Regions from separate parts of the Homo sapiens genome. Here all the other regions are linked to region 4. Evidence: fine-mapped expression QTL. A gene starts in region 4. Each other region holds a variant in brackets. All regions are shown on one strand. Distances are between the middles of the regions.

Region 1 (8,100 bases), 87 kb after region 4:
CATTTATTTATTTATTTTATTTTTTGCCTAATTGCTCTGGCTAGGACTTCCAATACTATGTCGAATAGAAGTGGTGAAAGCAGGCATCCTTGCCTTGTTTCTAATCTTAGAGGGGAAGCTTTCAGTCTTTTGCCATTCAGTATGCTGTTAGCTGCAGGCTTTTCATATATGGCTTTTATTATGTTGAGGTAGCTTCCTTCTACTTTTAGTTTGTTGAGTGTTTTTATCATGAAAATATATTGAACCTTTTCTTTTCTTTTTTTTCTTTTTTTTTGAGACGGAGTCTCGCTCTGTTGCCCAGGCTGGAGTGCAGTGGCGCAATCTCGGCTCACTGCCAGCTCTGCCTCCAAGGTTCACGCCATTCTCCTGCCTCAGCCTCCTGAGTAGCTGGGACTACAGGCGCCCACCACCACACCCGGCTAATTTTTTGTATTTTTAGTAGAGATGGGGTTTCACCGTGTTAGCCAGGATGATCTCGATCTCCTGACCTCGTGATCCGCCCGCCTTGGCCTCCCAAAGAGCTGGGATTACAGGCGTGAGCCACCACGCCTGGCCAAAAATATACTGAATCTTTTCATATGCTTTTTCTGCATCGATTGTGATGATCGCATGGTTTTTTCCCTTCATTTTGTTCATATGGTGTGTTACATTGATTCATTTTCCTATGCTGAACCATCCTTGCATTCTAGGAGTAAACCCCATTTGGTCATAGTGTATAGTCCTTTTAATGTGCTGCTGAATTTGGTTTGCTAGTATTTTGTTGAGGATTTTTTACATCAATATTCATCAGAGATACTGACCTGCAATTTTATTTTATTGTAGTTTCTTTGTCTGGCTTCGGTATCAGGGTAATGCTGGCCTCATAAAGTAAGCCTAGAAGTGTTTCTTCCTCTTTAATTTTGGGGAAGAGTTTCAGAAAGATTAGTTAATTCTTTAAACGTTTTGTATAATAGAATTTGTTGAGAGGTTTTTTTTTCTCTTTTTGAGACAGGTTCTCACTCTGTCACCCTGTCTGGAGTGCAGTGATGTGACATGATCACAGCTTACTGCTGCCTCAATCTCCGAGGCTCAAGTGATCCTCCCACCTCAGCCTCCCGAGTAGCTGGGACTACAGATGTGTGCCACCACACCCAACTTTTTTTTTATATATTTTGTAGAGATGAGGTTTTCAAGTTGCCTAGGCTGGTCGGAAACTCCTGGCCTCGAGCAATCCTCCTGTCTCAGCCTCCCAAAGTGCTGGGATTAAAGGCATGAGCCACCACACCTAGCTGAGAGGTTTTTGGTTACTGATTCAATTTCCTTACTAGTTAATTGGTCTGTTTATATTTTATGTTTGTTCATGATTCAGTGTGGTAGGTTGTGTTTTTCTAGGGATTTATCCATTTCTTCTAGGTTATCCAACTTGACATACAATTGTCCTTGGTTTTCTCTTTAATCCTTGTAACTCCTTGGCATCAGTTTTTTTTTTGGTTGTTGTTGTTGTTGTTTTTCTTGTTGTTGTTGTTTTGGAGACAGAGTCTTACTCTGTCGCCCAGGCTGGAGTGCAGTCGTGCAATATTGGCTCGCTGCAACCTTTGCCTCCTGGGTTAAAGTGATTCTCCTGCCTCAGCCTCCCTTGTAGCTGGGATTACAGGTGCCCACCACCATGCCTGGCTAATTTTTTTGAATGTTTATACTAGAGATGGGGTTTCGCCATGTTGGCCAGGCTGGTCTCAAACTCCTGGCCTCAAGTAATCCACCTGCCTTGGCCTCCCAAAGTGCTGGGATTACAGGCTGAGCCACCATGCCTGGCTGGCATCAGTTTTAATATCCTCTTTTTCATTTCTGATTTTAGTTGAGACTTCTCTCTTTTTCTTAATCTAGCTAAGAGTTTGTCAAGTTTGTTGAACTTAAATTTTTTTTCTTATTTTTTTCTATTCTCGCTTTTATTTATCTCTGTTCTAATCTTTATTATTTTCTTCTTTCTGCTAGCTTTGGGCTTCATTTGTTTTTCTTTAGTTCCTTGAGGCATAAAGTTAGGTTGTCGATTTGAGATCTTTCTTCTTTATTAAAGTACACATCTGCAGCTATAAACATCTTAGCACTGCATTTACAGCAACCCATAAGCTTTGGTATGTTGTGTTTTCATGTTCATTTTTCTCTAGGTACTTTCTAATTTCCCTCTGATTTCTTCTTTGACTCATTTATTTAATAGTGTATTGTTTAATTTCCACATATTTGTGGCAGTTTTCCTTGTGCTGTTGATTTCTAGTTTCTTTCCATTGTAATCAGAAAACATATTATAAAATATAGCGTTTCTTGTATTTCAAATCTACTAGTAAAGAGCTTTCATTTTTTGTTTATTTGGTAATGTCTTAATTTCTCTTTAATTTTTGAAGGATAGTTTTGCCACTCATAGAATTCTTGGTTAAGAGTTTTTTGTTTTTAGGGCTGGGCACGGTGGCTCTCGCCTGTAATCACAGCACTTTGGGAGGCCGAGGCAGGTGGATCACGAGGTCAGAAGATGGAGACCATTCTGGCTAACATGGTGAAACCCCATCTCTACTAAAAATGCAAAAAATTAGTTGGGCGTGGTGGCACGCACCTGTAGTCCCAGCTACTCAGGAGGCTGAGGCAGGAGAATCACTTGAACTCAGGAGGTGGAGGTTGCAGTGAGCCAAGATCATGCCACTGCACTCCAGTTTGGGCAATGGAGCATGACTCTGTCTCAAAAAAAAAAAACAACGGAGTGTTTTTTTACTTTTAGCAGTTTGAATATGTCATCACATTTCCTTTTGGCCTCCATGATTTCAATAAGAAATCGCTGCTGGCCGGGCGTGGTGGCTTATGCCTGTAATCCCAGCACTTTGGGAGCCCGAGGTGAGCAGATCACCTGAGGCCGGGAGTTCGAGACCAGCCTGACCAACATGGAGAAACCCCATCTCTACTAAAAATACAAAATTAGCTGGGTGTGGTGGTGCATGCCTGTAATCCCAGCTATATAATCCAAGCTACTCGGGAGGCTGAGGCAGGAGAATCACTTGAACCTGGGAGGTGGAGGTTGTGGTGAGCCAAGATTGTGCCATTGCACTCTAGCCTGGGCAACAAAAGTGAAACTCCATCTCAAAAAAAAAAAAAAGAAAAAGAAAAAGAAAAAGAAATCAGCTGCTAGTCTGAGGATTCCTTGTGCGTGATGAGTCACTTATCTTGTTAATTTCAAGATTCCTTGTATTTGGCTTTCAATAATTTGATTATAATGCATGTCAGTGTGGAACTGAGTTTATTCTACTTGGAGTTTGTTGCACTTGGATGTGTAGATTCATGTATTTCATTAAATTTGGGAAGGTTTTGGCCATTATTTATTTATTTTGAGATAGGGTCTCTATCACGTAGGCTGGAGTGCAGTGGCACGATCACAGCTCACTGCAGCCTCGACATCCCAGGCTCAAGTGATTCTCTTGCCTCAGCCTCCTGAGTAGCTGGGGCTACTGATGCATGCCACCACACCTGACTAAATTTTTAATTTTTTTTTTTTTTGAGAGAGAGTCTCACTCTGTTGCCCAGACTGGAGTGCATTGGTGCGATCTCAGTTCACTGTAACCTCTGCCTCCTGGGTTCACGCAATTCTCCGGCCTCAGCCTCCGGAGTAGCTGGGATTATAGGCATGCACCACCCACGCCTGGCTATTTTTTGTATTTTTAGTAGAGATGGGGTCTCACCATGTTGGTCAGGCTGGGCTCGAATTCCTGACTTCAGGTGATCCATCTGCCTCTGCCTTTCAAAGTACTGGGATTACAGGCATGAGCCACCGCACCCCACCGGCAAATTTTTAAATTTTTAGTAGAGGTGAGGTTTCACTATGTTGCCCAAGCTGGTTTCAAACTCCTGAGCTCAAGCAGTCCTCCCGCCTCAGCCTCCCAAACTGCTGGGATTACAGGCATGAGCCACTGTTTCCGGCTCAGATATTCTTTTTTCTTATTTTGAGACAGGGTCTCCCTCTGTCACCCAGGCTGGAGTGCAGTGGTACAGTCGTGGCTCACTACAGCCTTGACCTCCCAGGCTGAAGCAATCCTCCCACCTCAGTGTCTTGGATAGGTGGGACTGTAGGTGCACTCCACCATGCTTGGCTAATTTTTTGTATTCTTTGTAGAGATAGGGTTTCACCATGTTGCCCTTGCTGGTGTTGAACACCTGTGCTCACGCATTCTGCCCACTGTGGCCTCCCAAAGTGCTAGGATTACAGGCATGAGCCACCGCGCCTGGCCCCAAATGTTCTTTATTCCCCTTTCTCTCTCTCCTCTCCTTCTTGAATTCCCATTCTAGATATATTGGTATGTTTGATGGTGTCCCACAGATTTCTTAGACTTCGTTCATTTTTTCTTCGTTTTTTCCCATTTGTGTTACTCAGGTAGTAACCGTTATTCCCATTGACCTACTTCAAGTTCAATAATTCTCTCTTCTGCCTGCCAAAATTGGCTGTTGAGCCCCAGTGATTAAATTGTTCATTTCAGTTGTAGTCTTCAACTCTAGAATTTCTGTTTGGTTCCTTTTAATAATTTCTGCCTCTTTATTGATA[T/C]TCTCTACTTCCTGAGACTTTGTTTGTATTCTTTCTTTTAGTTATTTGGACATCATTTCCTTTAACTCTTTGAGTATATTTACAATAGTTTATTTAAAGTGTTGTCTGATAAATCCAATGTATGGGCTTCCTCAGGGACAGTTTTTATTAATTTATTTTGTTCCTGTGTATTCCCATACTTTCTTGTTCCTTTGCATGCCTAGTGATTTTTGTTGTTGTTGAAAACTGGACATTTTGAATATTTTAATGTAGTAACTCTGGAAAGTAGAATCTCCCTCTTCTTCAGGGTATATTTTTGTTGCTTGTTATTTGTTTGTACAGTGACTTTTCTGTACTAATTTTGTAAAGTCTGTATTCTTTGTTATTTGTGGCCACTGGAATCTCAGTTCTGTTACCTCAGTGGCCAGCTAGTGATTTGACAGAAATTTTCTTCTATGTCTGGAACAACAACAACAAAATCTCCCAGCCCTTGCAGATGGGCTTTGTGTGTGTTGGAGCATGAGCGTGCCTTTCTTACTCAGCCAGGCAGTTTACAACTCTGCCTTCACCTTCACTTCTTTTTGCATCATTTCCTTTTTTTTTTGAGACAGAGTCTTGCTCTGTTGCCCAGGCTGGAGTGCAATGGCATGATCTTGGCTCACTGCAACCTCTGCCTCCCGGGTTCAAGCAATTCTCCTGCCTCAGCCTCCTGAGTAGCTGGGATTATAGGCGCCCACCACTACGCCCAGCTAATTTTTGTATTTTTAATAAAGATGGGATTTTGCCATGTTGGCCAGGCTGGTCTTGAACTCCTGACCTCAGGTGATCTGCCTGCCTCAGCCTTCCGAAGTGCTAGATTACAGGCGTGAGCCACCGCACCGAGGCCTTTTTGCATCACTTCTAATTGTCAATCAGAGGTGAAAGCTTAGTGCCTCTTCAGTGTGTGTGTGTGTTTCATTTTTTGTTTGTTTTTAGTATGAATCTAGCCCTGGACATGTATGTGTATGGCTTTCTTGTTTCTCAGGAATATGTGTGAGCTTTTCGAAGCCTTTATTCCTCAAAGCATCTCATTGCTCATCCTTTCCTTTAGCTTTTCAATTTGTCTGTTTTTTTGCCCCAGTTGTCATCCCTTTCGCTAGGTAGCAGCAACTAATACATTGGCTTGGAAATTTTTTTTTTCTTGAGATGAAATTTCGCTCTTGTTCCCCAGGCTGGAGTGCAATGGGAAGATCTTGGCTCACTGCAAACTCTGCCTCCCGGGTTCAAGCAATTCTCCTGCCTCAGCCTCCCGAGTAGCTGGGATTACAGACACATGCCACCAGGCCCAGCTAATTTTGCATTTTTAGTAGAGACGGGGTTTCTCCATGTTGGTCATGCTGGTCTTGAACTCCCGACCTCTGGTAATCCTCCCGCCTCAGCCTCCCAAAGTGCTGAGATTACAGGTATGAACCACCGGACCCGGCCGGAAATGTTTTTGACAAATGCCTCCCGGTAGCCTCATCAGTCCCGGGAAAATTACAAATTAAATACATGCCCTTTGAGCCGGTCCTTCAAGGAGCCACCAGACAAGTCAAACTACAATTTTTAAAAATAAGTGTGTTCTGCTCCCTCCAGTACTTCGTATCTATCATGGGAATATAGATTGTTGTCTTCAAAGCTGCTGCCAAGCTAGTAGTGGGGGATGATACCAGGGTAGGTTAAAATGTCATAAAGCTTACTTACTGAGATTTGGCTTTTTAAAAAAATTACTTAAGCATTCCCCTAGTTACCATAAGCTTTTGATTAGATTCTAGAGTTCTGAAAAAGTTGATTCTGACAGGTTTTCTTTTGCTTTATTTATTGCTTTTATGGCTAGACTGACATTTAAAGATTCCCATTCCACAGTTTTTTGCTAATGTCCTGTATTTTCATAGTCTTTTAAAAATCCTCCCCTTTTAATCTGCACATTACCACCCTAGTTCCAGTTTTTACCTTGCATCAGGACTATTTTAGGAATTCTTAAACTGATCCCTCTGATACACTACCTTCTTGATTATGTGACTTTCCTGTTGAGAAATCTGAAGCTCACAGTTTCTCCTTGCCTATCAAATGATGTCTTTAAGCTGTAGTTCCAGCATAGCTTTCCAACTTTGTTTCACTGTTTCTCCTAACCTCACTTCCACACTGTGTTTTGATGAAGCCATACCACTAGGCTTCTCCCAAGTATGCAGTTTGCTTTCCATATCTGCTCCTGCACCTCCATGAATGCTGTTTGCTTCCCATCTGGATTGTCCTCTACCTTCACCTCTACCTACTGAATGCTACCCATCTCTCTCTCTCTCTTTTTTTTGAAACAGGGTCATACTCTGTTGCCCAGGGTGGAGTGCAGTGGATCACTGCAATCTGTGCCCCATGGCTCAAGCAATCTTCCCACCTCAGCCTTCCGAGTAGCTGAGATTACAGGCATGTACCACCATGCCTGGATACTTTTTGTATTTTAGTAGAGATGGGGTTTCACCATGTTGGTCAAGCTGGTCTCTAACTCCCCAAATGATCCGCCAGCCTCGGCCTCCCAAAGTGCTGGGATTACAGGCGTGAGCCACTGTGCCCAGCCAGAATACTACCCATCTCTTAATCAGCTCAAATTGCAGTCTTTCTATTAGGTCATTCCTAATTACTTCAACTAAAACGAATCTCTTCTTTCACTAAATTGCTATGACAGTTTGTTACTAATAAATGTATGACATACATTTATATTATGTATGTCATATATTGTTTGCATTATGATCTGTATTCATGCTTTCATTCATTCTTTTAATAACTATTTAGAGCACCCACTGTTTGCTAGGGCTAGAGTAGCAAAGAAGGCAGACATTGTACCTAATGATCATTATACATTGGTTACATATATCATTAAGAAAGAAAAGGCTGGGGGACTGGGTATGGTGGCGCATTCCTGTAGTCCTAGCACATTGGGAGGCTAAAGCAGGCAGATCTCTTGAGCCCAGGAGTTTGAGACCATCCTGGGCAACATGGTGAAACCTCATCTCTACTAAAAATACAAAAAAATTGGCCGGGTGCAGTGGCTCACGCCTGTAATCCCAGCACTTTGGGAGGTCGAGGCGGGCGGATCACCTGAGGTCAGGAGTTCCAGACCAGCCTGGCCAACATGGTGAAACCCCGTCTCTACCAAAAAATACAAAAATTAGCCTGGCATGGTGGCAGGCGACTTAATCCCAGCTATTTGGGAGGCAGAGGCAGGAGAATCGTTTGAACCCGGGAGGCGGAGGTTGCAGTGAGCCGAGATCGAGCCATTGCACTCAAACCTGGGGGACAAGAGCAAGACTTCTCTCAAAAAAAAAAAAAAAAAATTAGCCAGGCGTGGTGGTGCTTGCCTACGGTCCCAGCTACTCAGGAGGCTGAATGGGAGGATCACCTGAGCCCAGGAGGTGGAGGTTGGTGAGCAGAGATTATGCCACTGCACTCCAGCCTGGGCAACAGAGTGAGACCCTGTCTCAAAAAAAAAAAAAAAAAAGACAGAAGAAAGAGAGAGAGAGAAAAGAAAGGAAGGGAAGGGAAGAAGGAAA
Region 2 (8,100 bases), 220 kb after region 4:
GCAAGACTTTATCTCAAAAACAAAAAAAGAGAAACAACAAAAAGTTAAAAAGCACTAAGATGAACTTAAAGTGTAGAGTTTTTATTAGTCTTCCTTTTGCTTTATGTTTGTTTACACAATCAGTGTTGTCATCCGTTTAAAATAATGAGTTATAAGATAATATTTGCAAGCCTCACGGCAACCTCAAATCAAAAAGCACACAATAAGTGAGACTGTGTCTCAAAAAGAAAAGAAGAAAAAACACACAATGGATACACACACACAAAAAAGCAAGAAATTAAATCATACCACCAGAGAAAATCACCTTCATTAAAAGGAAGACAAGGAAAAAAAAAAAAAAAAAAAAAAAAAAGAGAAGACCACAAAACAGTGAGAAAAGAAATAACAAAATAGCAGGAGTAAGTCCCTGCTTAGCAATAATAACATTGAATGTAAATGGACTAAACTCTCCAATACAAAGACACAGAGTGGCTGAATGGATGAAAAAGCAAAGCTCAATGCTCTTTTGTCTAGAAGAAACACACTTCACCTGTAAAGATACACATGGACTGAAAATAAAGGGATGGAAAAAGATACTCCATGCCAATGGAAAACAAAAAAGAGCAGGAGTAGCAATACTTAGACAGAACAGATTTTAAAACAAAAACTGTAAGAGGAGGCCGGGTGTGGTGGCTCACGCCTGTAATCCCAGCACTTTGGGAGGCCAAGACGGGCGGATCACGAGGTCAGGAGATTGAGACTATCCTGGCTAACATGGTGAAACCCCGTCTCTACTAAAAATACAAAAAATTAGCCAGGCGTGGTGGCGGGCGCCTGTAGTCCCAGCTACTCAGGAGGCTGAGGCAGGAGAATGGCGTCAACCTGGGAGGCGAAGCTTGCAGTGAGCCAAGATCGCGCCACTGCACTCCAGCCTGGGTGACAGAGCGAGACTCCGTCTCCAAAACAAAACAAACAAACAACAACAACCAAAAAAACTGTAAGAGGAGACAAAGAAGGTCATCCAGCAACAGAATATAACAATTGTAAATACATATGCACACAACACTGGAGCACGTAAAGCAAATGTTATTGGAGCCCAAGAGAGACGTTAACGCAATAACAGCTAAAGACGTCAACACCCCACATTCAGCATTGGACGGGTGTCCCAGATGGAAACCCAATAAGAAAACATTAGACTTAATCTGCACTACAAAAGAAATGGACCTACTAGATACTTACAGAACACTTCGTCTAAAGTCTGCAGAATACACATTCTTCTCCTCAGCACATGGATCATTCTCAAGGATACACCATATGTTAGGTCACAAAGCAAGTCTTAAAACATTACAAATGTTAAAATAATATCAAGCATCTTCTCTGACCACAACAGAATAAAAGTGGAAATCAACAACAAGAGGAATTCTGGAAACTATACATACACGTGAAAATTAAACAATATGGTCCGGAATGGCCAGTGGTTCAATGAAGAAATTAGGAAGGAAATTTGGCTGGGCACAGTAGCTTACACCTGTAATCCCAGCACTCTGGGGGGCTGAGGCAGTCAGATGACCTGAGATAGGGAGTTCGAAAGCAGCCTGGCCAACATGGTGAAACTCCGTCTCTACAAAAAATACAAAAATTAGCAAAGCATGGTGGCATGTGCCTGCAGTCCCAGCTACTAGGGAGGCTGAGATGGGAGGATTGCTTGAACCCAGGAAGTCAAGGCTGCAGTGAGCCCTGATGGCATCACTGCACTCCAGCCTCGGTGACAGAGCAAGACCCTGTCTCAAGAAAACACACACACACACACACACACACACACACACACAGATGCTCAAACTAATATCATTTTGCTGTTAGAGCCAAGAGGGGTGGCCTGTGTAGTAAAAAGTGGGGAAGTCATTCCTTGCACAATGCAAGCCACTGGACCAAGAGTCCAAACTGACTCTTGACAGGAGGCTGGGAGATATCTGCTAAGGCCTTGGAATGTCCTGCCTGAAATAGTGTCTTTGTACATAGCTAGGGCCTTGGACCGTACAACACAGTTTATGCCAACAATGTGATCGAGGGTGGGGCCGTCAGGCCTGTATCCATCTGACTTCAGGAGGGGCTGGAGACTGAGTAACTGAGGTCAGCCATGCTGCGGGGGCTCAAGCCTAGGATGACCAACTCCCAACAAAAACCATGGACACCAAGGCCCAGGTGAGCTTCCGTGGCTGGCAGGGCTCTCTGCTGCCTCACTTACTGTTGGGGGAGAATTAAGCACTGCCTGTAGGAGTCCACCAGAAAAGAGAGCTGCAGCCTTGGCCTGGTCATTCTGGACTCTGGTCCCTGTGCCTTTCATCTTTGCTGACTTTAATCTGTACCCTTCTCTGTAATAAACTGTTAACAGGGAGAATAACAGCTTTTCTAGGGCTGTGAGACCTTCTAGAAATCACTGAACCTGAGGGTGGTCTGGGGGAGCACAACACAGTCTCCCACCCTAGCCAGGGAATGGGTTGATTCTTGGCATATGCCTATTCATATCCACCCCAGCCAAGACTTACGCATGGACTTTGTCACCAAGCCAGGCAGCCAGTGATGGGTCTCTGGGCGTGACGTGGGGGCAGGCTGTTTCCTGCTGAGAATCACTATGCCTGTATCTCAAGTAAAGTCAGGCGTCCAGGTAAGAGTGAATGAGGTGAGGCTGGTCTCGGTGGCTCACGCCTGTAATCCCAGCACTTTGGGAGGCTGAGGCTGGTGGTCACGTGAAGTCAGGAGTTTGAAACCAGACTGGCCAACATGGCGAAACCCATCACTACTAAAAAGACAAAAATGAGCCGGGGGTGGTACCCGGTGCCTGTAATCCCAGCTACTCAGGAAGCTGAGGCACGAGAATCGCTTGAACTCTGGAGGCGGAGGTTGCAGTGAGCTGAGATTGCACCACTGCACTCCAGCCTGGGTGACAGAGTAGGCTCCATCTCAAAAAAAAAAAAAAAAAAATGAATGAATGAGGTGAGGGGTGAGGGGTGAGGGGTGAGCACTGACATCAGGCAGGTGACTGACGACCCAACACAACCAGGACCTTGGCAGGGGCCCAGACTGGATACAGAAACCAAGTGGGAGCCACTAGACTAATTTATTGTACAACAGGGTCCCAGCTGAGGAGCAACTCTAGCGGGGCACAGCA[C/T]AAAGCTCATAGGGGGATGGCGTCACCAGAAAGCCGACGACACGAGAGTGGCTGGGCCGGGGCTGTCCGGTGGGCACCGAGAAGCTGAAGTGCTGCAGCAGGGAGGTGAAGAAGAGGAAGAGCTCTATGCGGGCCAGGGGCTCCCCGAGGCATGCACGGCGGCCTGTGGGGAGGGGAGGGGCGTCAGTGAGCCTGGCTCCCGGGTGATACCCCTGCAAGACTCCACGGAAGGGGACAGGGAGCCGGGCTCCCCACAGGCACCTGCTGAGAAAGGCAGGAAGGCCTCCAGCTTCACAAAGTGGCCCTGGGCATCCAGGAAGTGTTCGGGGTGGAAGCGGAAGGGCTTCTCCCAGACGGCCTCATCCTTCAGCACCGATGACAGGTTGGTGAAGAGCATCATCCCCTGGGCAGGAGATGCAGGGTGAGAGTGGGGACTGGACTCTAGGATGCTGGGACCCCCAAGCACACAGGGGACACACACTGCCTGGCACACAGCTGGACTCTGTCAACTAGTCCTGTGCCCGAGAAGCTCCAGAGCACCCTCTCCGACCCCATGGCAGGGCGCAGTCACACCTCCTGGGAGCGCCCACGCTACCCCCTCTCCCTACAGGTATTGGGGTCCTCCAACATTCTGGCAGGTCCTGGTCTGCCTTCCCCACTAGACTGGGGCTCTGGATGGACAGGCCAGCCCTGCCTATACTCTGCACCCCACACCCAGGCTGGGACAGTCGATGTGGTGGCATTGAGGACTGGGTGGCCAGGGTTCCTAGACTGGGCCCACCTGGCAGTGGCCATGCTGGGGCTATCACCAGGGGCTGGTGCTGAGCTGGGGTGAGGAGGGTGCCAGGCCTACCTTAGGGATGCGGAAGCCCTGTACTTCGATGTCACGGGATGTCATATGGGTCACACCCAGGGGGACGATGTCCCCAAAGCGCTGCACCTCGTGAATCACGGCAGTGGTGCAGGGCATGCGAGCCTGGTCACCCATCTCTGGTCACCACACCTGCCCTATCACGTTGTCGATCTGTTGGACACGGCCTGGACAGACACGCGTCCCCACAATGGGTCAGCACCCAGGGGACCAGCCCTGACACTCTCCTGCCTCCTGTGTTGGAGGAGGTTAGGCTTACAGGAACCTGGCCAAGCCTGTGCTTGGAGTCCCGGGTGTCCCAGCTAAGCTCAGGGGCCCCCACCTGTACCCTTCCTCCCTTGCCCCCTGCACTGGGCCCCAGCTGGGCTCACGCTGCACATCCGGGCGTAGGATCATGAGCAGGAGGCCCCAGGCCAGCGTGATCGAGGTGGTCACCATCCCGGCAAAGAACAGGTCAGCCACCACCATGCGCAGGTTCTCATCATTGAAGCTGCTCTCAGGGTTCCCCTTGGCCTGAGCAGGGCTGAGAGGGTACTCAGGGGACAGAACGGGAAAGCCCCCAAATGACCTCCACATTCTGCACCTGTCAGCCCAGGTGCCACTTGCCAAGTGATCCAATGGACCCACCTTTTGCCTGCCTCATTCCTCCCGGACGCTCAACCCACCACCCCTGGTCCCTACCGTGTCAGCCACTCTCACCTTCTCCTTCTCTGCCAGGAAGGCCTCAGTCAGGTCTCGGGGTGGCTAGGCTGGGTCCCAGATCATTCTGTGCTCGGTCAGCAGCTCATCCAGCTGGGTCAGGAAAGCCTTTTGGGAGCGTAGGACCTTGCCAGCCAGCCCTGGGATGCGCAGGAGGAGGGGGACAACATTCAGCATCTACAGCTGACACAGAACGGGGTCTCAATCCCTCCTGTGCTCTGCGTTCACCTGGACCAGTCTCAGGCCCCAGCTGCCTCCAGGGAAGACCCAGGGCCTACCTGTCCCCACCACTCACCTCCCCAAGTCCCTCCCCAAGTGCCAGCCTCCACCCTCTCTCCTTGCCCTGGGCTGCCAGAGGAGAAACCTAAAAATCAAAATCTCCAATGTGGACAGGAGGCACAGGGTCCTTGGCCTTTCTTGGTGCCCCCTGACCCGGGCACACCTCTCCCACGACCGTATCTGAGATGTCTCCTCCTCCTCAAGGCCCTTCCTCTAGCAGTGAGCTCTTCTGGAATGTCCTTTCCCAAACCACTCTATGCAAACCCTGCTCCTTGGAGGTCCGGCTGCAGTCCCGGCACCTCTCAGGAGCTCGCCCTGCAGAGACCCTGCGGTCCCTCGCTCCACATCTCTCACAGAAAGCCCAGCTCCTCCTTCAATCCCTTCTGAGCTAGGTCCAGTAGCCTGAGGAAGCGAGGGTCGTCGTACTCGAAGCGGCACCCGCAGGTGAGGGAGGCGATCACGTTGCTCGCCGCTTTGTTCAGGAGGCCGTTGGGGTGAAAGGGGCGTCCTGGGGGCGGGAGATGCGGGTCAGGGGTCGCCTTCCCAGTCCTCCACCTTCCCAGTTCCCGCTTTGTGCCCCTCTGCCCATCACCCACTGGCTTGGTCGGCGAAGGCGGCACAGAGGCAGGCGGCCTCCTCGGTCACCCACCGCTCCAGGGACTTCTTGCCCAGGCCCAAGTTGCGCAAGGTGGACACGGAGAAGCGCCTCTGCTCGCGCCACGCGTGTCCGTAGTGTGCCAGAAACACCCCTGGGGGCGGGACGGACACATGGGCGTGGTCATGGAGGCCTTGGCCCCGCCCTCCGCCGCCCACTCCAACCCTGTGCTTTTCCTGGTCTCCCGCAGTCCCTGGCCCTGTCCAGCTGGGCACAGGGCCTGCTCTTTGCTCACTCACCTTGCTTGGGTCTTGGCCCCACCTTGGCTCTTCCGACCCTGACTGCCTTTCCACTCAGGGAAGATCCCGCCCGTCCCGCCCCGCCCATACTGAGCCCACAGCAGAGTCCATCCCGGCTTCTAGACACCCGCTTCCAGCTGGGAAAGGCGCCAGCTCCGCCCACCCGGTTCCTGGTGGGTCTCGGCAGTTGCCCCGCCCACTCACAAGCCCCTCTTCCTCCCGCCCACAGACTCGCACCTCCCCAATGGAAGTGGTTTCCTGGCTCGCTGTCCCCAACCCACTCACTGGCCCACAACCCCGCGCCCTCTCAGCCCAGCTTGGGCTACGGTCACCGCCCACCCAGGACCCACGGAAACGCAGTCTCTGTCCCCCACCGCCGCTTGCCTTGGGAGCGCGGCCCGATGCCCAGGACCTGGTAGATGGGCGCAGGCGGGCGGTCGGCGGTGTCCTCGCCGCAGGTCACCAGAGCCTCACGCACGGCCGCCAGCCCATTGAGCACGACCACCGGCATCCAGGCCAGCTGCAGGCTGAACACGTCCCCAAAGCGGTGCCGCAGCTGTAGAGGGAGGGTCAGGGCCTCCGTTGGGTCAGGGCCTCCATCAGGCCAGGGTCCCCCCAGACTGCAGGTCCTAGTCCTATTTGAACCTTAGACGACCCTCGGGGCTACCAGGAGTGAGCAGGTGGAAGGAGGAGACCCAGCCTCCCGATCCTGGGGCGGGGATGGGGTCACACCTTCTGTGATGGAGGAACTCAGTTTGGATGCGTCACCCAGGTATGACCTTGCAAGAGTCACCAAAATTGCCGAGAGGCCCCAGTTAGCATCCCATTCCCAGATGATGGTCCATGCCGGTGAGCAGTGAGGCCCGAGGACCCACAGTGCAAAAGGTTTGAACCGGGTCCACTATATCCCTTCATCCTTGATTTCTAACTTACTCATTTATTTAGACCATGTCTGGCTCTGTCACCCAGGCTGGAGCGCAATGGCGCGATCTTGGCTCACTGCAACCTCCACCTCCCGGGTTCAAGCAATTCACCTGCCTCAGCCTCCCATGTAGCTGGGATTACAGGTGCCCACCACCGTGCCCCGCTAATTTTTGTATTTTTAGTAGAGGCAGGGTTTCACCATGTTGGCCAGGCTGGTCTCGAACTCCTGACCTTGTGATCCCCCCACCTTGGTCTCCCAAGATGCTGGGATTACAGGTGTGAGCCACCGCGCCCAGCCGTTGATTTTTTTTTTTTTTTTTTTTTTTTTTTTTTTTGAGACAGAGTCTCGCTCTGTCGCCCAGACTGGAGTGTAATGGTGTGTTCTCAGCTCACTTCAAGCTCTGCCTCATGGGTTCATGCCATTCTCCTGCCTCAGCCTCCCAAGTAGCTGGGACTACAGGTGCCCACCACCTCGCCTGGCTAATTGGTTTGTATCTTTAGTAGAGACGGGTTTCATTGTGTTAGCCAGGATGGTCTCGATCTCCTAACCTCATGATCCGCCCGCCTTAGCCTCCCAAAGGGCCGGGATTACAGGCGTGAGCCACCGCGCCCGGCCTGATTTCTTATTCGTTTATTTAGACATTGTCTGGCTGTGTCACCGAGGTTGCAAGGCAATGGCACAATCTCCACTCACTACAACCTCTGCCTCCTAAGTTCAAGCAATTCTCCTGCCTCAGCCTCCCAAGTAGCTGGGATTGCAGGCGTGCACCACTGTGCCCAGCTCATTTTTTGTATGTTTAGTAGAGACCGGTTTTTGCCATGTTGGCCAGACTCATCTGGAACCCCTGACCTCAGGTGATCCGCCCACCTTGGCTTCCTTAAGTGCTGGGATTATAGGCGTGAGCCACCACGCACAGCCTGATTTCCTGATTTAAACGGCACACAGGACCCTGACTCGTCTTCCATTCCCAAGGCCTTTCCTTCTGGTGTCAGCAGAGGGGACTTTGTGCTCCTAACATATGCTGCCCAATGGGCTTGCACGCCCACTGCCAAGTCCAGCTCCACCTCCAGGCCCTTGCCCTACTCTTCCTTGGCCTTTGGAAAATCCCATCTTTCATGCCATGCATAAATGCCCTCCCCCAGGAAGTCCCTCAAATCTGCTTCCCCTTCTCAGCCTGGCTTCTTGTCCAGACTGTGGCTCCACCCACCACCCATGTTTGCTGGTGGTGGGGGATCCTCAGGACCTCCTCCCTCACCTGGTTGAAGGTGTATATGTTCTGGAAGT
Region 3 (8,100 bases), 29 kb before region 4:
CGAGCTATAGAGTCCTTGGTGAAACCTCAGGCCAAGAAGAAGGCTGGAGACCAGGAAGAAGAGAGCTGGTAAAGTCCCCAGACCAGTCCCCCTGCCTTAGGACCTGTCCACGCAGGCAACTCCAGGACAGCCTGAAGGCCTGCACTCCTGGAGGGAAACAAGCCTGGCATCGGGTTGGCAGGGCAATCAAATGGTTCCTTTGTATTTAATTTCTCAAAAATGAGAGCCCTATGTTAACTCTGACCTGGCCTTTCCTCCTAGACCAAGTGCGTTTTTTTTTTTTTTTTGGAGACGGAGTCTCGCTCTGTCACTCAGGTTGGAGTGCAGTGGCGCAATCTTGGCACACTGCAAGCTCTGCCTCCTGGGTTCACGCCATTCTTCTGTGTCAGCCTCCTGAGTAGCTGGGACTACAGGCGCCTGCCACCATGCCCGGCTAATTTTTTGTATTTTTAGTAGAGACGAGGTTTCACCATGTTAGCCAGGATGGTCTCGACCTCGTGATCCGCCTGCCTCAGCCTCCCAAAGTGCTGGGATTACAGGCGTGAGCCACCATGCCCAGGCCTTTTTTTTTTTTTTTTTTTTTGAGATGGAGTTTCGCTCTTGTTGCCCAGGCTGGAGTGCAATGGACCAGTCTCAGCTCACTGCAACCTCTGCCTCCCGGGTTCAAGTGATTCTTCTGCCTTAGCCTCCCAAGTAGCTGGGATTACAGGCGCCCACCACCATGCCTGGCTAATTTTTGTACTTTTAGTAGAGATGAGGTTTCACCATGTCATTCAGGCTGGTCTTGAACTCCTGATCTCGGGCAATCCGCCTGCCTCGGCCTCCCAAAGTGCTGGGATTACAGGCATGAGCCACCACGCCTGGCAGGTGCACCCATTTTTATGTATCCCTTTACCAAGCGGAGTCAGTACTTGGACCAAGTCAGGGATTTCATTAGCTTGCTCTGCTTTTTGGGGTAGGGAGCAGGGGCCTGTTGAAAGGGGATGGGGGCTGGGTGCAGTGGCTCACGTCTGTAATCCCAGCACTTTGGGTGGGAGGCCAAGGTGGGCAGATCACGAGGTCAGGAGATCGAGACCATCCTGGCTAACACGGTGAAACCCCGTCTACTAAAAATACAAAAAATTAGCCAGGCGTGGTGGCGGGCGCCTGTGGTCCCAGCTATTCCGGAGGCTGAGGCAGGAGAATGGCATGAATCCGGGAGGCGGAGCTTGCAGTGAGCCAAGATTGCGCCACTGCACTCCAGCCTGGGTGACAGAGCTAGACTCTGTCTCAAAAAAAAAAAAAGAAAGGGGATGGGAATGAAATGTGACGAGCTCAGCAGAAGGCAGACACATCTGGCCTGGACATCTTGGGGACCCAGCCCCTCATGGAATGTGCCGGGCAATTTTTCTCTCTGACATACTTACTGAGCACAGTCCTTCTTTCACAGAGTAAGACCTGAGAGGCAGATAGGTGCCAAAGTCACTTTTGTTTTTTGTTATTTTTGTTTGTTTTTTGGGGGGTTTTTTGAGACAGTGTCTCACTCTGTCACCCAGGCTGGAATGTAGTGGTACAGTCTTGGCTCACTGCAACCTCTGCCTCCTGGGTTCAAGCGGTTCTCCTGCCTCAGCCTCCCAAGTAGCTGGAATTACAGGCACGCGCCACCATGCCCGACTCATTTTTGTATTTCTTGGTAGAGGCAGAGTTTCACCATTGGTCAGGCTGGTCTGGAACTCCTGACCTCAAGTGATCTGCCTGCCTTGGCCTCCCAAAGTGCTGGGATTACAGGCGTGAGCCACCGTGCCCGGCCCCAAAGTCACTTTCCTACAAGGCCCAGATCCTGATTAGGGTGCACCTGAGGAGAGGGGGAGGGGGCAGTTCTGCCTGGGAGATAAGAAAACTTTTGGGAGGAGATGACACTGGACTTGGGGCTTAAGGAGAGGAGTGAGGGTAGGCTGTGGGGGATGCTAGGGAAAGGCCCCCAGTAGAGGGAAGAGTGTCAGTGACAGCCCAGAGACACGGAGGAAGGATGCCTGAGGAATACAAAGGGTACACATAGACAGCGCTTGCGTGTGCCTGGGATGACAGGAAAGGGACAGAAATGGCCATTGGGTCTTAGAGCTGGAGAGCTGAACAGCTAGGCCATGAGGTGGGCCTTGTGTATATGTTTTGATGTACATGGGACCCTTTCTTTTCTTCCTAGTGAATTCTCCAGTGCTCTGGAGTACTTGAAATTACTTCATTCTTTTGTGGACTCTGTGGGGGTTATGAGCCCCCCACTCTCCAGGAGCTCCGTGCTCAAGTCCGCCCTGGGTAAGCACCTGCGGGTGGCCCACAGTCTCAGGGTGCTCAGTTCAGGTCTTCACAGTGCTTTTGCCCCAGGGGTCCAGGGCGTTAGGAGTGTAGATGCCAGCATCTTCTCTGGATCCCAGGTTCATACCTGTGGCTCCAGTTCACAGTCACCCCCTCCCAAACAGCACTCAGAGGCAGGAAACTATGGTTTTCAGAGAAGTAGGGCAATGAGTAATTGAATGTCTTCCTCAAGCCCTAGCTGTGTGACCCAGGTGAGGACCCTTCTTAATGCCCAGAAGAACAAGCAATGAGTGGCCCAGGCACCAGGGATGGTGGGGAGTCACCTTTCAGATGCACAGTGGCCCCTGAGGCAGCTCTTGGGCCTTATGCTCTTTGCTGAAGAGACTTTTCATCTGGGCCTCTCTACCACTCCTCAGCCCCTCATCACATCAGTGTCACAGCACAGCCCACTGACTGGATTGACATCATGACATTTCTTTGCTTCTGTCCCTAAACTGCCATCAGGATGATAGCACATCAGCTGCCAACTCTTGGGCTTCTGTGGCCACCCTGGAAGATGGGGGTACCAAGCTACCGCTGGTCACTCTCCCTAGGGAGGGAGGGATCCCAGAAAATCAGCCACCCTATCATGATCCCTGACCTGTGGCCTCTGTTTTCAAGTTTAGGGAAGCATGACCATCCCCGCTGGTTTTGTGGGATCACTACTGTCATCATTTTGCAGTTGAGAAAACTAAGGCTGAGAGAGGAGAAGACTTAAAATATTCTAACAGGAGCCTGTTCCAGATACTTTGAAGATACCATTCTTTATGGCTATTGAAAGCTTAGGTTGTATCCATCTTTTTATTTAAAAACAACACTGCAGTCAAATATGTGTTAAACTTTTTTCTCTCTAAGCCAGTTTCATTATGACAGACTGCCAAAAATGGGATTACTAGCTTAACGGGAGTGAACTTTTTTATTTTTTTTGAGACGGAGTCTTACTCTTGTTGCCCAGGCTGGAGTGCAATGGCACGATCTCGGCTCACTGCAACCTCCGCCCGCACCGAGGTTCAAGCGATTCTCTTGCCTCAGCCTCCCTAGTAGCTGGGATTACAGTCACCCGCCACCATGCCCAGCTAATTTTTTTGTGTATTTTTAGTAGAGAGGGGGTTTCACCATGTTGGCCAGGCTGGTCTCAAACTCCTGACCTCAGGTGATCCACCTGCCTCAGCCTCCCAAAATGCTGGGATTACAGGCGTGAGCCACCGCGGCCAACCAGGAATGAACATTTTTAAGGCTCTTGATATATATTGCCAAACACTTTCCAAGATTGTGCTGGTCTATTCCCCTCCCCCAGAATCCTGGGTGTGGGAGCCCAGAGGCTGCTGGCCCGTTCCCAGCAGGCAAAGATGTTACCCATCTCCTAGGAAGGAAGTGTAGCAGCCTCTGAGCGCCACAGGTCTCGTTTCTGTGGGTGCTGGAGTGCGTTTGGTGCTGTTCTCCTCTAGGTCCAGACATCATCTGTCGGTGGTGGACGTCTGCAATCACTGTGGCCATCAGCTGGCTCCAGGGAGACGATGCAGCTGTGCGCTCTCATTTTACCAAAGTGGAACGCATCCCCAAGGCCCTGGAAGTGACAGAGTGCGTAACCCTCCTTGGCCACTCACTTGCTTCTCTCCAGGGGAATCTTGTTTGAGTTAGCAGGAGCAAACTGGACTGGGTGGGCGTGTTGGGGTGAAGGGTCAGGACTGCATGACAGGTGGGCGGCTAGAAAAGTCGGGGGTGAGGGCACCATGGAGAACTCAAGTTGGGCCAGCAGGTCCTCTGTGCAAGTGTCCTGCTCTGCACAACACGACAGTTGTCCCAGCAGCTGTCAGCACTGTGTCCGGGTCCTCCTCCCTGCAGCCTTCATGGCGCCACAGGCTGAAAAGAAGAGACGAGAGCAGTGTGGCCCCCAGCATCTTCAGAAGCTTTGTGGTGGAGGCAGGCACTGGTGGTTCACAATCAGTGCAGAGAGGCCACTGTTGCCCCCAAAACTCATGTGCACTGGAGCATCTTGCCCCTGTGTGCTAGCATTTTATCCACTTTCCTTCCAGCCACCTCCA[C/G]CCCCACCATCAACCCTGGCAACTTTGTCCTGTAACTAAAATAGCCTTTAGCACATGGCATAACCGGAGAGCTTTTGACATTCCTCTTTGGAGATTCATGTCTGCGTCTTGGGGGCATTCGGCACTAGTGATGGGCAGCCCTGCCTGCTGACTCCCCGGCTGTTTCTAATTGGATCTGAGTATTCTAAGAGAAACTGTAAAATGCTCCAAGACAGAAAGGCCCCACGAGGTCCTATCCTTAGAGCCAAGGCTGTAGCATTTCCTATCAAGCAGACCCTTAACCGGCGCACAGGAAGGAGCTGAGAAGAGTGAGTATACACAGGCTTGAAGTCCTTTGTTCCCTGAAGTAGATGTGACACCCTAATTTCATTGAAGTAGCCCCATTTGTAAGCACTCTGACTAGGTAAGCACCCAGCCCGGTATAGCATTCCACCTGTATGTGTGTCTCCCCCAGTCGATGTGCCTGAGGACACTGAGACTCAGCAGGTAAGTTGTCCAAAGTCACCTCGCTCCAGAGCAGCAGAGCTTCCATGGACAGCCAAGACACCCCTGCAGGCACTGCTGCCTGCTGGATTCACTTACCCCTGGGTCCCTCTGCTTTTCAGGGACTAGGATGCTATGAGAACCCTCCCCCATCCCTAGCCTCCCCTTCCACTCCCAGTCTCCTCTACAGAAAGAAGCTAACTAAGTATCTCCAGAGAGTTTAATACCACATCTCTGGGGGGGTGGTCCCTTAAAGAACGGGTACAACACCTTATTGTGGCCACTTTATAGGTAAGGAAACTGAGGCACACGTTGGAATGACTATCTTGGGTGGCTTCTTAGCAGCAGACGTGATGGTGAAGCCTGTGTCTCTGACTTCCAGCATTGAATGAAGGTGCTAAAGGGTGGGGCGCTAACCCTAGCTCAGGGCTGGCATTTCAGATCTGGAGCTGGTGGCATGGTGCCATAGTGGCAGCATTGGAGTCAACAGATGCACATGTCATATCAGTGTGGGGCGTGGCAGTCACTGGCTTGGGCCCCTCTGCCTGTCACGCAGGTGACACATAGTGACCTGCCTCTCGACTCCCTGTCACTGCTGCAGGAGCCCCCTGGTGAAGGCCATCTTCCATGCCTGCAGAGCCATGCATGCCTCACTCCCTGGGAAAGCAGATGGGCAGCAGAGTTCCTTCTGCCATTGCGAGAGGGCCAGTGGCCACCTATGGAGCAGCCTCAACGTCAGTGGGGCCACCTCTGACCCTGCCCTCAACCACGTGAGTGGGAGCTGAGTTGGCCCCTGGGGGAGGTGCTCTGCACTGGTTTACGAGAACACTCCCACTCACCTCATGCTGACCCTGCGGGTGGGGCCATCCGAAAGACAGAGAAACCAGGACAGCAGCCCCCTTTCAAAAAAGTTACGGCTTATTGGCCTAGGTGGACTCCTTTTTCATCCCTTTTCAGCCTCTGAGGCAAGTGTGTTTCTACCTGCACCTTTCTTAGGCTCCCAGAGTCCCAGGTCCTGCTGGCCCATAGCCTCTGTAAGCCCAGGTGCACCCCAGCTGGCCAGGGGTTCACCTGCATTTGCTCCAGCGGTTTGCGTGACTTCCCAGGCCTCTGCAGGCAGCCTTGGAGTGGGTTCCTGCCCCCTCGGGCACACAAACAGAGCTGAAGACCACCCTGGGCACCTCCTTGGCTGGCCGCATACCTCCTGGCGGGCAGCTGTGGTGCATTGTAGTTGCATTGCATGTTCTGGTGGTACCCATGCAATGTTTCCACAGTGCATCACAGAGGCCTGCCTGGCCCTCGAGAGACTGCCCTGACTGAAGGCCCTATCAGGTGGGGGAGGGGATCCTGATAGAGGGCACTGCTGCCACTGTTGGGGCCCAAGTCACAGCCATCCCAGGAAACAGGAGGGCACCCAGCTGAAAGTGGAGCATCACCTGGTCTACGGGGAACATGTCCTTAGCTCCAGAGTGGGAGGGACCGGGAGAGTCCTGGAGATTCAGATTCTCAGCCACTCCCTGGGGCTTGGTCTTAGCTGGCTAGGCTAGTACTTCAAGCTAGATATTGTCAGTGGACCTGGGCACTGGGATGAACCCAGGACAGCGTGGCAGCCCCTACAGGGACAGGCAATGTGCAGAAAAGGCCCAAACTGGCTGGACGCGGTGGCTCACACCTGTAATCCCAGCACTTTGGGAAGCTGAGGTGGGCAGATCACCTGAGGTCAGGAGTTCGAGACCAGCCTGACCAACATGGTGAAACCCCGTTTGTACTAAAAATACAAAAATAAGCCAGGTGTGGTGGCATGTATCTGTAATCCCAGCTACTCAGGAGGCTGAGGCAGAAGAATCACTTGAACCCAGGAGGTAGAGGTTGCAGTGAGTCGAGATTGCACCACTGCACTCCAGCCTGGGCAACAGAGCGAGACTCCATCTTTAAAAAAAAGCTGGTGGGGGTGCCCAAATGCCCTGGGCTGCCAAGACCAAAGGCAGATGGTGAGCCACATTTCACCTTCTCTTTTGGGCTTTCCATTAGTCTCTTCCGTATTTGTCTTCATGAGAGAACCAAACAGTACAGGCTCAGTTTGGGGAATGAGAGGCTTGCAGCCACCCTTTGGACTGGGGTTCCTTGGTAGCAGCTCTGTGGTAGGAAAGTGAGCCTAGAAGACAACGCCATGCAGCCTGATGGCCCTCGGAGGGCAGAATCCAGACATAGGCCTGCTGCCTCCATGCCCACAGGTGCTTCTGCAGCATGCACAGCTTAGAAGTGCCAGGTTTTGAGGAGAGGGATCCTTTTCCACATCCCCTTGAAGCACACAACAGCCAGAAAACAGTGTAGGCAAGGATCAAGGCCTTGTGCAGGGACAGGGCAGGGTCTTCCTCAGGCCCAGTGTCCTGGGAAGGAGGAAAGCCAGGGCTGGGTGAGATGAGGCTCAGCCTGAGGGAGTTCATCAGGACCGGAGGGCTGCTTGCGGCCCATCTCAACAAGGACTCCTCACTGCTCGGTGTCGTGCAGGTGTGCCACTGCGAGCCGGGTGGGCAGCCCAGCCCCATAGGTCGTAGGCAGAGAGTATGCATGGCCCACATGCAGTACCTTCTCATATGATACAACAGCCCTGTGATGGTGCCATTTACATTTTTTTGAATGAAGAAACTGAGGCTCAGAGAGACTAAGTCCTATGCCAGGGTCATGTAGCTAGTAAGTGGCAAAGCCGGGTCAGTAGGCCTAGTCCCCAAGCACTAAGGCACTCTGTGGTTCTGTCTTCTGAGACACCTGTCTCCCTCTCCCACTCCTCCTCCTCCTTCCCCCAGCCCCATCGACAGGCTCTGCTGCCACTTCAGGCTTTTCCTTGGTACCTTGTGGGTATCTCAGCCTCCTAGCCAGCCATGGTGGGACTCCCATGGGGTGGAAGAACCTGCGCCTTCAACCCACAAGGGTTTTATTTCTGCCCCTGCCACCTGCCTGTGCTGTATTCCCTATACAAGCTGCTGTCCCTGTCAGAGCCTTGCTTTCTCACCTGCAGAATGGGGAGGGCTTGTCTCCCACCTCCTGGGGCCATGGAAGGAACTGGTTCTCCCCTGAGCTGTTCCCTCACGTCCTGCGGAGTTCACCAGACTCTGGGGCTCTCCACTTCCTCCCAGAGCTGCTGAGTGTTGGTCTGGGGAGAGGCCTGGTAGGTGCTAGGATCCTTGCCTCAGGGATGGGCCAGTCACCTGTCTCCCCTCTCTCGTGGCTGACCCCACAG
Region 4 (8,097 bases):
GTCTTGTCCCCAGACCCCAGAGCAAGGAACACCATTGTAAGAGGAGGGAGCAGCTTCCACTGTGACGGTGGGTGACCAGGGGGCTGGCACAGGATGGCCAAATAAGCCCAGCACTGGGGGGCCAGTGCTTCAGGGGAACAAGCCAGAGAGAGAAGGGAGTTCAAGGGACCTCATGTCCACCTGGTTCAAGGTCACACGCCTGCCCTGGCCTCTACACAAAGGAGCCTCCTGTAGGTCCCAGCCCTTCCATGTTTATGGCTAAATGTGCTGTGTCTTGGAGCAGCTGGAACCCCAGGTGGACCCTGAGAGAGCTACCTGCCAGCATGTTCCTTCAGCTCGAGTTTGGAGTCCAGCCCTGGAGGCTGCGCACCTCCTCCCAAATGCAGGCTTGTGGCTCTGGAAGCTGCCACTGGGGTCAAAATGGCATCTTAGGTTCTGGCAGATTGGGCCAATCTCAGGGTTGACCCTGGGGTACAGATACCTGAGAATCAGCAAAATCCAGCTCAATCTTTTCTCCTTTGTTATTTCTTAAAATAATCTTGTACTAAATCCCAAAGCAAGCGAACCCATGAATTGATTATTCACTGCTGCCATTTGCATCAGTTTAAAAGCAGGACGGCTCTGAGGGCAGGTATTAAAGAAATAGAGGCCAGGCCCGGCGCCTCCTGCCTATAATCCCAGCCCTTCGGGGAGGACTGCCTGAGGCCAGGAGTTTGAGACTGGCCTGGGCAACATACCGAGACCCTGTCTTTAAAAAAAAAAAAAGGCCAGCCACGGTGGCTCACGCCTGTAATCCTAGCACTTTGGGAGGCTGAGGCGGGCGGATCACGAGGTCAGGAGATCGAGACCATCCTGGCTAATACGGTGACACCCCGTCTCTACTAAAAATACAAAAAAAATTAGCCGGGCGTGATGGCGGGCGCCTATAGTCCCAGCTACTCAGGAGGCTCAGGCAGGAGAATGGTGTGAACCCAGGAGGCGGAGCTTGAAGTGAGCCGAAATTGCGTCACTGCACTCCAGCCTAGGCGACAGAGCGAGACTCTGTCTCAAAAAAAAAAAAAAAAAAAAAATTAGCTGGGCAAGGTGGAGCACCTGTAGTCCCACCTACTCAGGAGGCTGAAGCAGAAAGATTGCTTGAGCCCAGGCTGCAATTAGCTGGGGACCCATCGTTGCACTCCAGCCTGCGTGATACAGCAAGACCCTGTCTCAAAAAAAACCAAAACACAAAACAAGGCCGGGCATGGTGGCTCATGCCTGTAATCCCAGCACTTTGGGAGGCCGAGCAGGGCGGATCACGAGGTCAGGAGATCGAGACCATCCTGGCCAACATGGTGAAATCCCGTCTCTACTAAAAATACAAAAATTAGCTGGCTGTGGTGGTGCGTGCCTGTAATCCCAGCTATTCGGGAGGCTGAGGCAGGAGAATCACTTGAACCAAGGAGTCGGAGGTTACAGTGAGGCGAGATCGCGCCACTGTACTCCAGCCTGGCGACAGAGCAAGACTCGTCTCAAAAAAAAAAAAAAAAAAAAAAAAAAAAAATCAAACAAACACAAAAAACCACCCAACTACAAATTAGGCATCCTCCCACTTGGTCTTTTTTCAGATTCATTTTGGCTTAATGGTGCCTTCCCCATTTTAAAAGCGGTCTTTTACTCATAGTGCCCCAGCCTTTTGAAGGCACAGGAACAGGAGCTGGGCTACCACCTTCAAGGGCTGTCAAAGATGGTGAGGTCTGAAGCCAAAGGCAAGCACACCAAACTCCATGGGGGCTGAATGCTGTGGTCTGTAGTGTCTGTGCTTCTGCAGAGTTAGCCTGGTCCCAGAAAGAGGGCATGTGCATGCTGGAGTGAAGAGCTGAATTTGATTTCCAAGCCCCTGGCTGGGGGTCCAGAGGGAGGGCAGGGGCCACCTCCTGCCGGCTCCCTGCTATTGTTGCTCAGGGCCGGCCGTCTTGGTGGTCACCAGTTCAGTGGAGCCCAGCTCTGTGGCTGGCACAGGGACACTGTGGCCAGGTGGGGTGGTTCCTGGGTCTTCCCCAGGAGGAGGCCAGGCAGGAGCTGTGGCATCAGAGATTCCCGGAGACAGAATGATGACCTTGTCCAGGGGCTCTGGGGCTGCAGGCAGAGGGGGTAGAGGCTCCGTACTCAGTCACAGCCTTCCCTCCCTCCCCTAGAAGACTCCTCTGGAGGGGCAGTCCTCCGTCAAATGAAGCCCAATGCAGGGTGGGGAGGGGTGGCACCTGGCTGACCCTGAGTCCAGAGGCCTGGCCAGTGGGGAGCTGGCAGGGCAGGGAGTTGGGGAGCTGGGGCTCAGTCTGGCAAACTCTTCAGGGATTTATGGGGGAACCAAGCTCCGTTAGACTCCCAAAGGGCAGGACAGACTCCTCCCTCAGACGGGGCCCCCTTCCTGCAACCTGTCTCTTCCTCACACTGGGGTCTGTCAGGGCAGAGCTGTTCCTGGCTCCGACCAGGGTCTCAGGGGCAGGACTATGTCTCCCTCCCCAGCCTGAGCTCCTCAGCGCAAACTCTTTTCCACTCTGTCTCCGTTTCCCCTTAAAGCCCTTCTCTCCCCCTCAGGGGCCATGCATCTCCCCCTAGACCGTCCCGACACCCCAGCCCCTGCGCCCCGCTCAGACTGGTTCCCCTACACACGGAACTCACCGTCCTTGTCTCCGTCGGGGGCCTCTGCGGAGGACGCGCCGCGAAGCCGCCGCTGTCGCCGCCTCCAGCTCACCAGACCCACCAGGACCAGCGCCAGGACCAGTGCCAGGCCCAGCAGCGCGGGGGCGCCAAAGAGCAGCCCGGGCAGGGGCAGCGCCGCCTCGCCGGCCCCCGCGCCCACCGACTCCTGCGGCTGCAGCGCCGTCCTGGGCGCAGGGCTGCTGGCCCCGGCTGCTTCGGGAGGGGACAGGGAGGGAGGCCAGGGGGCCGAGGGGAGGGAGGAGCGGGGACGGGGAGGGGCGGAGGGGGGCGAGGCTGGCCGGGGAGGGGAGGGACAGCCGGGGGGCGGTGGACAAGGGGAGGGAGAGAGGCGGCGGTGAGGGCCACGCGGTGATCGCGGGCCCCTCCAGGCCCTGCCCACAGGGTCCTTTCAGCCCTCGGCGCCCCCGGGGGTCGGGGCTCTGCCTGCGCCCTGGCGATCGGGGCCCCGTTCTCCCCGCAGCTGCCGGCGCCGCGCGCCCCGTGGGTCCCCCTTACCCGGTTTCGGCCGCGGCGTGCGCAGGAGCCCGCAGGCCACGCAGTGGCGGACCAGCAGGTCGAAGCACTCGGCCGGGACGCAGGGCGTGGGGGCTGGCGCGTCCCTGCCCCGCAGGCTCCGGGGCCCTCGCCTCATGGTGCCGACGCCGCCGCACAAGCTGCGGGGACTGAGGCTGAGCTGGGCTCCGGGGCCCTCGGGGAGGAAGCGGGGGGCGGGGGGAGCACTCTGCCCTGCCCCGCCCCCGCCTGCTGGGTGGGACCGAGCTCGCCTGGGGCCCCCCTTTCTTTTCTTTTTTTTTTTTTGAGACGGAGTCTCGCTCTGTCGCCCAGGCTGGAGTGCAATGGCGCTATCTCGGCTCACTGCAAGCTCTGCCTCCCGGGTTCAAACAATTCTCTGCCTCAGCCTCCCGAGTAGCTGAGATTGTAGGCGCCCACTGCCACGCCCGGCTAATTTTTGTATTTTTAGTAGAGACGGGGTTTCACCATCTTGGTCAGACTGGTTTTGAACTCCTGACCTCGTGATCCACCTGCCTCGGCCTCCCAAAGTGCTAGGATTACAGGCGTGAGCCACCGCACCCGGCCTGGCCTCTCTTTCTACCTGTGGTTCCCCAATTCAGCCCCTCAACCAGCACCGCCTGGGTGGGCCCTCTGCTGGGTGCTGGGAGGTGTCTGGGGGCAGACCAGAGCCTCCTCTTGGGTAGGGAGGGGGATGGACCCCGCAGCCAGGACACAGACCCTGAGTGGTTCCTCTGCTCCGTCTAGCCAAAGCCTCTCCATGACCCCGAGTGCTCCCCTGCCATCTCCCCCAACCCACCTGTCTCCTCCTCTCTTCCTGCCCTTCCTGGACAGAGCTGGTTGGGGATATCAGACACCTGCTTTTTTTTTTTTTTTTTTTGAAAAAGAGTCTGGCTCTGTGCAGTGGTGCAATCTCGGCTCACTGCAACCTCTGCCTCCCAGATTCAAGCGATTCTCCTGCCTCAGCCTCCCGAGTAACTGGGATTACAGGCATGCACCACCATGCCCGGCTAATTTTTGTATTTTTAGTAGAGGTGGGGTTTCACCATTTGGCCAGGCTGGTCTCGAACTCCTGACCTCAGGTGATCCGCCCTCCTCGGCCTCCCAAAGTGCTGGGATTATAGGTGTGAAGCCACAGTGCCCAGCCTGACATCAGACACTTGTACCAGGCCCAAGTAGCATGTGGGTCTGCCCTGAGGGAATCTCACACTTGTGCTGATGGGGGAAGACAGCCTCGCAGCAAGGGCACCAGCTCACGTCATCCTGGAAGGTGGGCCGGAAGGCTTCATGGAGAGGGCGATGGTGAAGTGTTTGCCAGATGGACTGAGGTCTAGGGAGCAGATGGGGGTGAAGGCCAAAGGGGAGCAAAGGCTTGGAGGCCCAAACAGGAAGTCCAGGGAGTGCTGGGACCGAAAGGCTGGACTGGGGCCTTATCTAGCACATTAGGGAGCTTGGACTGTGGCTGGGGGACACGAGGGAGCCACTGGGGCTTTGTGCAGGGAGGACCCAGGAAGATCTGCCTATGAGTGAGGGAACTGTGACTGCAGTGGAGGGAAGCCCGCCCACACCTGCTCCTTTTCTCCAGGGCTATGTGTCCTCTCCTGCTCACCTCTGTGTCTCACTGCGGGCCCCTCCTGTCTATCTCTGCTCCCCAGTGTTTGGGGTCCCCAACTGTCTGTCACCCGTGTCTCTCTCAGACTGCGTCTCAGAAACACACACAAGCCCCTCCGCCCTCCTGGTCACATGCTACCCCCTCCCCAGGGCCAGGGCTGGAGGGAACTCTGGGAGCTCAGGGCTCAGCAGAGAGCATGGGGTTAAATGCCACACATGCCACCCAGACCCCTAAGCACTCAGGGCTGGGGAAGCACAGTGAGAGGAGAAACTCAGGGGCTGGGGAGGGAGCCTGGGGGCAGAGGGAGACCCTGAGCAGCAGCGAGGGGGAGGCAAACACTCCAGGCGGAGGGCTGCAGGGGCTAAGGCTTGGAGAGATGAAAGGGGAGCCTGAGCTGCTCTGGGGGCAGGCATGGCCACTGCCACAGGGGATGCTGGGAGGGAGGAGGGAGCATCCGGGCTGCGGATGGGCAGGGCACCAGTCCCGGGGCAGTACAGAACCTGGGGGTGTCTGGGTAGGAGGGAGATTCTGAGCTGTACCTGCAAGGGTCCCTCTCTCTGGCACTGTGGCCCACGTCCAGGGCAGGTGGCCCAGGGCAGGGGATGATGCAGCGGCTGGCCATGGAGTGAGGGGAGCAAGGCCGACCCCCAGGTTTCCAGCTTGGGAGACCCTGAAGGTTCACAAAGAACCCCAGTCAGCCAGCCCTGACTGGTGGGCGCTGGCCCACCCTCTCCATCCCCTGTACATGGGCCAGCAGCTCCCAGGCAGGAAGGTGTGGGCGGAGGGGAGCTGCAAAGGAGAAGTGGGGCTGGGGGCAGGTGTGGGTGAGCGTGGGTGTATGGTGATGTGGGGGTGGGGGCAGGTGTGGGTGAGCGTGGGTGTACGGTACAGGGATGGGGGACAGGACCCTGGAGGGGAGCCAGGGCAGGGAAGGCCTCTCTGTGAGGCAGAGAGGTGGGGACAAAGCCAGAAGACTGAGCCATAACCCTGCCACCCACATACACGTCCATCCATGTTGGTGCTGGTATTACCCATTAGTGAGGGCTGCAGAGGCCTGACTGAGTACCAGGCAGCTCATTTAGCCCTTGTGCCAGCCATGTGGGCAGACTGAGGCTTGTGGGAACCCAGGAACGGGGAACCTGTCCCTGGAGAGGGTGGCCCAGTGAGGCCAGAGTCGGGAGAATTTACAGGAGTTAGGAGGAGGGGGTCCGCCTGCCCCAGGTCTGCGTTTCACAGCAGAAGCACTGGCTGCTCTGACCCCCAGCAGAGACTCGAGGAGACTGCTCTCAAGGCCAGAGAGAGTGGGAGGGCTGGAGCCCACTGTCAGAGTTCCAGGGTCCCTTACCTTGGCCAGAGAGGGAGGCCAGCTGCTAAGAGCAGCAGACACAAATGAGACACCCACTCATGTGACACAAATGTTTGCTGGGCGCTCCCTATGTGCTGGGCCAGGTGCCGGGACAAAAGGCCTGCGGGATTCGTGTCTGTGTTGTGTGCAGGTGCCTGGCCTCACATGAACCTTTCCACTTGGGCCTCCTAAATGGGGTGGGGGTGGGGGGCTGCAGCAGGCCCTGTGTCGCTACTTGGATGACAAAACAGTTAAGAAGAATTCACAATCAGACCAATGTGGGGAATGTTAGTTTACTCCTCAATGTATTCTTATTTCCCCGTGGCTTTTTTTTTTTTTTTTTTTTTTTTTTGAGACGGAGTCTCTCTCTGTCGCCCAGGCTGGAGTGCAGTGGCGCAATCTCCGCTCACTGCAAGCTCCGCCTCCCAGGTTCACGCCATTCTCCTGCCTCAGCCTCCCGAGTAGCTGGGACTACAGGCGCCCGCCACCATGCCCGGCAAATTTTTTGTATTTTTAGTAGAGACGGGGTTTCACCGTTAGCCAGGATGGTCTTGATCTCCTCACCTCGAGATCTGCCCGCCTCGCCCTCCCAAAGTGATGGGATTACAGACGTGAGCCACCGCGTCCCTTTTTTTTTTGAGACGGAGTCTGGCTCTGTCACCCAGGCTGGAGTGCAGTGGCGTGATCTCGGCTCACTGCAGCCTCTGCCTCCTGGGTTCAAGCCATTCTCCTGCCTCAGCCTCCCACGTAGCTGGGACTACAGGCACGGGCCACCATGCCTGGCTAAATTTTTTTGTATTTTTAGTAGAAATGGGGTTTCACCATGCTAGCCAGGCTGGTCTTGAACTCCTGACCTCAAGTGATCCACCCACCTTGGCCAACACGCCTGGCCTAATTTCTTTTCTTTTTTTTTGAGATGGAGTTTCACTCTTATCGCCCAGGCTGGAATACAGCAGTGCGATAAGCAACACCCAACTCAGCTCACTGCAACACCCAACTCCCAGGTTCAAGCGATTCTCCTGCCTCAGCCTCCTGAGTACGTGGGATTACAGGCACCTGCCACCAGGCCCGGCTAATTTTTTGTATTTTTAGGAGAGGTGGGGTTTCGCCATGTTGGGGAGGCTAGTCTCAAACTCCTGACCTCAGGTGATCTGCCCACTTTGGCCTCCCAAAGTGCTGGGATTACAGGCATGAGCCACCACTCCTGGCCTAATTTCTTTATTCAAGTCTTTTTTTTTTTTTTTTGAGATGGAGTCTCGCTCTGTTGCCCAGGCTGGAATGCAATGGCACGATCTTGGCTCACTGCAACCTCCACCTCCTGGGTTCAAGCGATTCTCGTGCCTCAGCCACCCCAGTAGCTCGGATAACAGGCACGTGCCACCATGCCCAGCTAACTTTTGCATTTTAGTAGAGACGGGGCTTCACCATGTTGGCCAGGCTGGTCTCGAACTCCTGGTCTCAAGCGACCTGCGCGCCTCGGCCTCCCAAAGTGCTGGGATTACAGGCGTGAGCCACTGCACCCGGCCACCATGCTCTACTTTTAATTCACTGAATACTCTTTTTAAAAAGATAATTTGGGCCTGGTGTGGTGGCTCATGCCTGTAATCCCAACACTTTGGGAGACCGAGGCGGGTGGATCACCAGAAGTCAGGAGTTTGAGACCAGCCTGGCCAACATGGTGAAACCCTCTCTCTATAAGAAATTTAAAAAAAAAAAAAAATTAGCCGGGTGTCGTAGCTGGCGCCTGTAATCCCAGCTACTTGGGAGGCTGAGGCAGGAAGAATTGTTTGAACCCGGAAGCCAGAGGTTACAGTGAGCTGAGGTCGTGCCACTGCACTCCAGCCTGGCTGACAGAGCGAGACCCCATCTCAGAAAAAAAAAAAATAATAATAAAATAACAAGATAGTTTGGGGTCTTCAGAGAGAAG

Alleles and levels. Positions count from the first base shown, and alleles are read on the strand shown. Sizes are in standard deviations (SD) of each study's normalised expression. Not every link is listed here.
With allele G in place of C in region 3, the expression in left ventricle of the gene that starts at base 3,367 in region 4 is lower (small effect, 0.37 SD a copy in GTEx).

The links. PIP is the estimated chance that this variant, and not a neighbour inherited with it, causes the effect.
Region 1: its variant is fine-mapped to the expression of TNFRSF13C in whole blood (INTERVAL, PIP 0.95).
Region 2: its variant is fine-mapped to the expression of TNFRSF13C in whole blood (TOPMed, PIP above 0.99).
Region 3: its variant is fine-mapped to the expression of TNFRSF13C in left ventricle (GTEx, PIP above 0.99).

What each region holds. Positions count from the first base shown.
Region 1 is chr22:42,010,283-42,018,382 of GRCh38, forward strand. All of the region lies in intron 1 of WBP2NL (WBP2 N-terminal like), which reads left to right. Among named protein-coding and RNA genes, the nearest start is that of WBP2NL, 16 kb to the left of the region's middle. RefSeq lists enhancers at 5,407-7,080, 6,279-7,844. The variant T/C (reference allele first, on the strand shown) is at 4,556.
Region 2 is chr22:42,146,754-42,154,853 of GRCh38, forward strand. It overlaps LOC105377203 (a long non-coding RNA gene), which reads right to left and starts at 2,747. Exons shown (of 3, transcript XR_938280.2): 1 at 2,526-2,747; 2 at 1,219-1,600. It also overlaps the pseudogene CYP2D8P. The variant C/T (reference allele first, on the strand shown) is at 3,149.
Region 3 is chr22:41,894,870-41,902,969 of GRCh38, forward strand. SREBF2 (sterol regulatory element binding transcription factor 2) reads left to right here. Exons shown (of 19, transcript NM_004599.4): 13 at 1-68; 14 at 2,183-2,292; 15 at 3,780-3,912; 16 at 5,461-5,629. MIR33A (microRNA 33a) reads left to right here and starts at 6,075; the gene lies at 6,075-6,143. The variant C/G (reference allele first, on the strand shown) is at 4,377.
Region 4 is chr22:41,923,440-41,931,536 of GRCh38, forward strand. It overlaps TNFRSF13C (TNF receptor superfamily member 13C), which reads right to left and starts at 3,367. Exons shown (of 3, transcript NM_052945.4): 1 at 3,199-3,367; 2 at 2,662-2,892; 3 at 1-2,115. The coding sequence starts at 3,334. The coding sequence ends at 1,928. It also overlaps a transcript of CENPM not described here. RefSeq lists enhancers at 1,594-2,095, 2,096-2,595, 5,153-5,222, 5,366-5,976, 5,977-6,586 and a silencer at 2,688-3,427.